2 separate regions of the Homo sapiens genome follow, and region 1 is linked to region 2. Evidence: fine-mapped expression QTL. A gene starts in region 2. The other region holds a variant in brackets. All regions are shown on one strand. Distances are between the middles of the regions.

Region 1 (4,384 bases), 120 kb after region 2:
GAGTTCGAGACCAGCCTGGCCAACATGGTAAAACCCCGTCTCTACTAAAAATACAAAAATTAGCTGGGTGTCGTGGCAGATGCCTGTAATCCTAGCTATTAGGGAGGCTGAGGCAGGAGAGTCACTTGAACCCGGGAGGCGGAGGTTGCAGTGGGCTGAGATCGCACCACTGCACTCCAGCCTGGGCAACAAGAGTGAGACTCGGGCTCAAAACAAAGAAAATCCACATATGACTGAACCCACCCAGTTCAAACCTGTGTTGTTCAAGGGTCATCTATAAACCATAAACTGAAGTTTATGGTGGATTTGGGCGAATGTAAAGATTCCAAACCTTTGGTAATCCCCCTTTTCCAGGTTACAGACCCTCGAGGGGTCCCTGCAGTCCTGGAGATGAGGGTGTTGGGAGGGGACGTCTTCTTGGTGCCCATGGAATGGGCCTGCTTTGTGGATTGGGGCCTGGTGGGGCCTCGTGGGCTTTGTAACCTCTGAGATGCCCCTAATCTTCTCTGCAAAAACGAGCAGCTTCCTGAAAGTGGTCATGGCCGGAGGCAATTCCCAATACTTCCTTCCTCCTGCAGGAAAACCCCAGAGTGAATCTGAAGGTCCCAAGCCATGTGCTTCTGCCGTGATAGATCCCTTTGGAGAAGGCGCTGAGTCACCTCTCTCCAGGGTAGTCACAGCTTTGGCACCATTTGGTTTGGGACTTCACAATTTTCACAGCGATTCAGCTTCCATTATCTTGTTGGAAACTCAAAGCAACCTTGTAAATGAAGAGGGTGGATGTTAGCCCATTTTCCTGAGGGAAAACTGAGACTCATTCCCTGCAGTCATTTGCCCAGAGCTCCGAAGCCAGCCAGGGGCGGAGGCTCGTTTTGCTGATTTGAGAAAAGAATTGAGGGTTTCTTAGAAAACTTCAGGGTTTCTAGTTTCTTGTTGTCTTCTGCTTATTTGCATATTCACCGTACCCAGAAGAGGCAGGTGATGGCTCTTGATATCTTAGAAATGGAAAACCATGTATTGAATTAGGAGCTCTTACCCAGGGGAGGGGACGTTTTTAGGGAAAGCAGTGAACCCCTGAATGCACATTTGCTGGTTTTTTGTTTTTGTTCTTTTTTTTTTTTTTTTTTTTTTGAATCGGAGTCTTGCTTTGTCACCAGGCTGGAGTGCAGTGGCGTGATCTCAGCTCACTGCAACCTCTACCTCCTGGGTTCAAGTGATTCTCCTGCCTCAGCCTCCCAAGTAGCTGGGACTACAGGCACACGCCGCCATGCCTGGCTAATTTTTGTATTTTTATTAGAGATGAGGTTTCACCATGTTGGCTAGGATGGTCTCGATCTCTTGACCTCGTGATTCGCCTGCTTCAGACTCCCAAAGTGCTGGGATTACAGGCATGAGCCACCGCACCCAGCCCTGGTTTGTTTTTTATTGTATGTGGGTTTGCAGTGTTCATAACTTTTTATCTTTTTTTTTCCCCTTTTTTAAGAGATGGGGGTCTCGCTCTCTCACCCAGGCTGGAGTGCATGGCGCAATCATAGCCCACTGCAGCCTTGAACTCCTGGGCTCAAGTGATCCTCCTGCCTCAGCCTCCTGAGTAGCTGACCACATCCGGCTAATTTTTTTTTTTTTTTTTTTTTTTTTTTTTTTTGAGACGGAGTCTCGCTCTGTCACCCAGTCTGGAGGGCAGTGGCACGATCTCGGCTCACTGCAAGCTC[C/T]GCCTCCCGGGTTCACGCCATTCTCCTGCCTCAGCCTCCTGAGTAGCTGGGACTACAGGCGCCCGCCACCACGCCCAGCAAATTTTTTTGTATTTTTAGTAGAGACGGGGTTTCACCGTGTTAGCCAGGATGGTCTCGATCTACTGACCTCTTGATCTGCCCACCTCAGCCTCCCAAAGTGCTGGGATTACAGGCATGAGCCACCGTGCCCGGCCCTGGCTAATTTTTTTTAATTTTTATTTTATTTTTATTTTTATAGAAACAGGGTCTCACTATGTTGGCCAGGCTGATCTCCAACTCCTGGCCCCAAGTGACCCTCCCGCTTCGGCCTCCCAAAGTGCTGCTGATGACAGGTGTGAGCCACTGTGCCCAGCCTCCATCTGATTTTTAAAGAGGTCCTCAGACCCTTTAAAAAGTTAGAAGCCAGTCTCAAATCCTGTTTCCTTCCTTCCCTGCTACACACACACACACACACACACACACTCCCCTGCTGTGTAAATAATCAACATCAAATCCACAAATCCATCCCCTCTCCCATTGGCAGTCTCTTCCACGGCAAAGGACACTCACGCCCTTTCCTGAAGAATAGAGTATCCAATTGGAACAAATGTATGATGAAAATTTCCAAACATAATAGTTGAAGAGAAAAGGACAGTAAACACCCCCACCCAGCGTCAACTGTCATCCAGATTTTCCACCTTTGCCGCATGGCTGTCTTCCTTTGCTCTGGAGAAGCACTTTAGAGCAAGTTGGAGTCAGGATGCCATTTCGCCCACGTGCCCTGAAGCGCACGTCACTGAGACGTGTGGCGACTGACATGCTAACGTATACTCGATGCCAAGGTCACGTCTGAGAAAATGAACAATGACCCCTCCTAGCCATCAGATCTTTCACATAAGAGGCAACTTTTGATTGTTTTTTTTCAAATGGTTTCTTTCTCTCTCTCTCTCTCTTTTTTTTTTTTTTTTTTTTTGAGATGGAGCCTTGCTCTGTCTCCAGGCTGGAGTGCAGTGGCGCGATCTCAGCTCACTGCAACCTCCACCTCCTGGGTTCAAGCGATTCCCCTGCCTCAGCCTCCCAAATAGCTGGGATTACAGGCACCTGCCACCATGCCCGGCTAATTTTTTGTATTTTAGTAGAGATGGGGTTTCACCATGTTGGCCAAGATGGTCTCGATCTCCTGACCTCGTGATCTGCCTGCCTTGGCCTCCCAAAGTGCTGGGATTAGAGGCGTGAGCCACCGCGCCCTGCCTCTTTTTTTTTTTTTTGAGACAGAGTCTCTCTCTTGTCACCCAGGCTGGAGTGCAGTGGCGCAATCTCCGCTCACTGTAACCTCTGCCTCCTGGGTTCAAGTGATTCTCCTGCCTTGGCCTCCCAAGTAGCTGGGATTACAGGCACCCGCCACCATGCCTGGCTAATTTTTATACTTTTAGTAGAGACGGGGTTTCACTGTGTTGGCCAGGCTGGTCTCGAACTCCCAACCTCAGGTGATCCACCCGCCTTGGCCTCCCAAAGTGCTGGGATTACAAGCGTGAGCCACCGCCCCCGGCCCCTTTTCAAGTAGTTTCGATCTAGGGTTGGTTGAATCAGCAGATACAGAAACCTCCAATACAGCAGACAAGAGGCAACTTTCATTTTATTTTTGTTTCTTTATTTTTAGAGAAAGGGCCTTACTCTGTCACCCAGGCTGAAGTGCGGTGGTTGCGATCATAGTTCACTGCATCCTCAACCTCCTGGGCTCAAGTGATCCTCCCACCTCAGCCTCCCAAGTAGCTGGGACTACAGGTGTGCACCACCATGCCCAGGTAATTAAATTTTTTTTTTGTAGAGATGGGGTCTCGCTATGTTGCCCAGGCTGGTCTCAAACTCCTGGCCTAAAGCAATCCTCCAGCCTCAGCCTCCCAAAGTGCTGGGATGACAGGGGTGAGCCGACACACCCATCCGAAAGAGGCAACTTTTTTTTTTTTTCTTTTAGAGGCAGAGTCTCGCTCTGTCAGCCAGCCTGGAGTGCAGTGGCATGATCTCAGCTCACTGCAGCCTTCACATCCTGGGTACAAGCGATTCTCCTGCCTTAGCCTCTTGAGCTGGAACTACAGGCACATACCACCATGCCCGGGTAATTTCTGTATTTTTTGGTAGAGATGGAGTTTTGCCATATTGCCCAGGCTGGTCTCGAACTCCTGACCTCAGGTGATCCACCTGCCTCAGCCTCCCGAAGTGCTGGGATTACAGGCGTGAGCCACCACACCTGGTCGCAAGAGGCAACTTTTGACTGCAACCCCATTGCGTTTTGTCTCCCAGATTGTAACGAGCCGTGTCCTCTTTGTGGGTACCCTTTATCTTCTCCGCATCCAACAACCCAGTTTGGACTGGTGTTCAACTGGAATTCAAGGGCCCACATTGCCCGGTCCAAGCCATGTTTTGGAAAAGGATGACGAATGATCTACAGCCTCCTCTGAGTAAATGAAATCACATCTTCAAAGCCCATTTTATGTAAAAGGACATTCTCATCCTGGAACAGTTGTGGAAGGCTATTTTTAAAACTGTCAGGAAGCGTCTGGGAAACAAAGAAACTGCCTCTTGAAATAATGGAGTCAATATTTCTGCCTCTTATCAGATCAAGTTCCTTTGAAACATGCTACTTTTTTTTTTCCAAAATTTTCCCCAAAGTT
Region 2 (4,384 bases):
TGGCACTTAAAGCCTGCATGCTACATTTCCTGGACGCCGTTGCCAATTGGCAACGTTCCTGTCATGCTTTATTAGAACAAAGTTGGGAGGCAGAAAGAGGGGAGAAACCATTTTTTCAGACTTCTGCCAGTGGCTTAGGTGGTGGTGACAACAACAACTGTGACTTTCGCAATCATGGTGGAGGCAACTGTGGCTAGCAAGGGTGAACACATCTGGGATCCTTCTGTAGGCACAGTGATTGTGGGTTATGGGTCCTCCTGTGCTTTATTTATTTATTTATTTTGAGACGGAGTTTCGCTCTTGTTGCCCAAACTGGAGTGCAGTGGCGTGATCTCAGCTCACTGCAACCTCCGCCTCCCAGGTTCAAGTGATTCTCCTGCCTCAGCCTCCCGAGTAGCTGGGATTACAGGTGCCCACCACCACAACCGGCTAATTTTTGTATTTTTAGTAGACACGGGATTTCATCATGTTGGCCAGGCTGGTCTCAAACTTCTGACCTCAGGTGATCCATCCACCTCGGCCTCCCAAAGTGCTGGGATTACAGGCGTGAGCCACTATGCCCAGCCACCTCCCCTGCTTTAATCTTTCAGCTCTAGAGAGGCTAGCAGCCTCATATAGTTATGAATCTTTAGGTAAACTTACCTTCCTCTTTTGTTCTTCCAGTACTTCCAACACTTTTATACTCAGTCCCCTGTAGTCGTTTATGTATTCATTTATTTTTATTTATTTATTTTTTAGACAGAGTCTCGCTCTGTCACCTAGGTTGGAGTGCAATGGTGAGTTCTCAGCTTATTGCAACCTTCCCCTCCCAGGTTCAAGCAATTCTCCTGCCTCAGCCTCCTGAGTAGCTGGGATTACAGGCACCTGCCACTGCACTGGGTTAATTTTTGTATTTTTAGTAAAGATGGGGTTTCTCCATGTTGGCCAGGCTGGTATCAATCTACCTGTCTCAACTGGATTGCTGGGATTACAAGTGTGAGCCACAGAGCCTGGCTCAATCCCCTGTATTCAATATCCTCTGTTTGAAGTACCTAGAAGGACTTCTCTTTTCCTTATGGAATACGTACTGATAAAGCACTCAAGACTGTTAAAAACCTTCATTACTCTATTGATGTAACAAAAGAAGCTGAGGCAAAGTTAATATAAGTAGAGAGTTTGGGCCAAGGTTGAGGACCGCAGTCCAGGAGACACAGATTCAAGTTGCCCTGAATGTATGCTTTGATTAGCAACAGTTACAAGTGGGTTCTTTTTGTTTTTGACTTTGTTTTGAGACAGAGTCTCACTCTGTCACCCAGGCTGGAGTGCAGTGGTGCAATCTTGGCTCACCGCAACCTCCACCTCCCGGGTTCAAGTGATTCTCTGGCCTCAGCCTCCTGAGTAGCTGGGACTACAGGCATGCACCACCACACCTGCTAATTTTTGTATTTTTTTTAGTAGAGATGGGGTTTCACCATATTGATGTTTCACCATACTGGCCAGGCTGGTCTCCAACTCCTGACCTCATGACCCTCCCACCTCGGCCTCCCAAAGTGCTGGGATTACAGGTGTAAGCCACTGTACCTGGCAACAAGTGGGTTCTTGTCTTATTTATTTATTTATTTTTGAGACAGAGTTTCGCTTCTGTTGCCCAGGCTGGATTGCAATGGTGTGATCTTGGCTCACTGAAACCTCTGCTTCCTGGGCTCAAGCAATTCTCCTGCCTCAGTCTCCTGAGTAGCTTGGATTTCAGGTGCCCGCCACCACAGCCAGGAGGACGCCTTGCGGGGCAGGGTGAGGGGGGCAGGGTGCGGGTCCCCCAAATTAGCGCGCACACACACACACACACACACACACACACACTGCGATCCTAGGAACAGGGCGCTTTGCGGGGCAGGGTGAGGGTCCCGACCCTCCGCGGGGTGGGCGACCGCCTCCCCAGGCGCACTGGCAGGGGGACGGCATCCCTAACAGAGAACCAGGCCTCGGCATGGGCTGGAGGGATGACACAGCATGGTCGACTCGGACAGCGGCCAGCGGCATGAGAGTCCGAACAACGTTGGAAGGAGGAGTAGGGGAACGGGCAAGAGAGCACGGAAGACGCAGATGCCTCAGGCCCAGCCCCTCCAGGCTGCGTGTGGGCGGCCCCGCCCCTGCCCCCGCCCCTCCCGGCCTGACTGCACATGCGTGGCCCTGTCTACGGCCCCGCCCTCTCCCGGGACAGGCGGCCTGCGCACCGCCCTCCCGTCGTCCCAGTGCGCACGCGTGGCTGCAGCCCCGCCCCCGTTCCCCCGGCGCTCGGAGCCCGAGTCCGCGGGAAGATGGCGGCGCCGCTCATCCCCCTCTCCCAGCAGGTACGGGCCGGGCGGGCCTGGGGGCGGCGCCGGGGTGCGGGGCGCGAGGCGAGCGGTGCGGCGAGGCTGAGGCGCTGGGAGACTCAGCCAGGCGGCGGCGGGGGCGGCGCGTGCTGAAGGGCTTGCGGCGGGCGGGTGGGCAGGCGGCCCTGAAGGTGACAGGCCGGGACCCGCGGCCTCCCGTGCCCGAGCGACCCTCGCGGGCACCGGCGAGGCGAGGAGGTGCGCAGCGCGTGTCCTCTCCGCCCAGGGCCCGGACCCTGCCGCCGCTGAAGCTCCCAGGCCGGGGACCCGCGGAGGCGCTGGGCTGCATCCCGGAGGGGTGGGCGAGGGGTGCGAGCGTTTCTGTCGGCGCGGCGGCCCAGCGAGTCTTTGTCTCCCTCCGGTCCCGGCGCCCGGGCGGGCAGGGTCCCGCCGGAGCCCGGACCCGTCAGCAGCAGTGCGATCTCAGACTGATCCCCTGCCTCCTTGGAAGCTGCTTCCGCCACCCCTGCACCGGGCGCAGATCGTACGTCTCCGGGCGCCTCTCTGTGTCCTCAAATTCGCCTGATGCGCTTATGAAGGGGCAGTATCGATAGCGCGACACAGACATGCGAAAAAGAGCCATGCGTAGGCAGCTCTGTTATTTGGGAGAGACTTTCATTCATTCATTTTCTATCCATCCCTCAAATGTGCGTTGGGTCAGGTGCTGGGAGCGCTGCATTCTTCCAGACAGACAAGGTCGCTGCTTTCCTGGAGGTGACACTCGTGGGAACTAGAAACTACCTGTGTTATGCTAATCACAGCTGCCTTTATTTGCTGAATACCTGTGTTGTGCAAAGCACCATATAAGCATTTTGCTAGAATGATCTAGCACAGCATGGTGATTAAGAGTGAGGACACAGGGTCAGATCATGTGTTCAAATCTTGGCTCCAGCCCCGATTTCTCTGTGCCTTTGGTTGAAGCTCTTAGCCATTCCACCCATCAGTTGCTTCCTTTGGAAAATGGAGATATAAAAATGTGTTGGGATTATGTGAAAATTAAGCACGTGAAAAAGCGCTTAGAACAGTGCCTAGCATATGAGAGGCACTCAGTGATCCTATAATTACTGTCATCATTTAATCTCTGCCAGATTTGGACGTTTGGGAGTAGAGACCGCAGCAATTAAGAATTCCAAACCCAAAGAGAGTTGATAGGCCGGTTGCATGCTTGCATGACTGGTTAGCTGATCCAAGGAGAGAGAAGTGCACAGCTAGCCAATTTGCAACACTGTCACTAAGTTAACAGTGCTAAAACCCGGTGATTATTAATTAGCAAGTTCTTGTTACTGACATGAAAGTGCTCTGTAAACTGTTAAGTGTCCTACCGATAATAGGTGTTAATAGCTAAGTGCTACAGTTTAGAGTATGTAGTCAGGGGGTGGGGGGCGGGGAAGGCGGGAGTCGGGGGAAAATCACCTAAGATCATTTCATGAGAAAGCACTAAGCACTCCCAGTTTGGGAGGCGTGGATCTTTCTAAAACTTCCTGTCCAATTTTTTTTTTTTTGAGATGGAGTATTGCTCTGTCACCCAGGGTGGAGTGCAGTGGCATGATCTCAGCTCACTGTAACCTCCGCCTCCCGAGTTCAAGTGATTCTCCTGCCTCAGCCTCCTGAGTAGCTGGGACTACAGGCACGTGCTACCACACCCGGCTAATTTTTGTATTTTTTTTTTAGTGGAGACGGGGTTTCACCATTTTGGCGAGGCTCGTGTCAAACTCCTGAACTCGAGTGATCCACCCGCCTTGGCCTCCCAAAGTGCTGGGATTACAGGCGTTAGCCACTGCGCCTGGCCAGGTCACTGACTTCTTAGCCTCTTCCTGTTCCTTTCCCTATACATTTGTTGAATGAAGGCGTGGCCTGGTTTTCTTCGTTTGGAAATGTCAGCACTTCTTTACACTTGCTCTCGAGTGAAAATCTACACCATGGGTTACTGTTGGCCCAGGTGTGAGGCATGGCCCTCCCAGGCCCTTACTGTCTAGCTCAGGAGATCACTTGGGTTCACAGATAACTCTGGGGGAACCAAGGGTATAATT

What was found. PIP is the estimated chance that this variant, and not a neighbour inherited with it, causes the effect.
Region 1: its variant is the best candidate, but not a certain one, in a credible set for the expression of EPS15L1 in whole blood (TOPMed, PIP 0.65).

Annotation. Positions count from the first base shown.
Region 1 is chr19:16,347,843-16,352,226 of GRCh38, reverse strand. No RefSeq gene overlaps it. Among named protein-coding and RNA genes, the nearest start is that of KLF2, 25 kb to the right of the region's middle. The variant C/T (reference allele first, on the strand shown) is at 1,713.
Region 2 is chr19:16,469,859-16,474,242 of GRCh38, reverse strand. EPS15L1 (epidermal growth factor receptor pathway substrate 15 like 1) reads left to right here and starts at 2,273. Exons shown (of 24, transcript NM_001258374.3): 1 at 2,273-2,330. The coding sequence starts at 2,298. RefSeq lists silencers at 2,042-2,441, 2,502-2,721 and enhancers at 2,802-2,951, 2,184-3,095.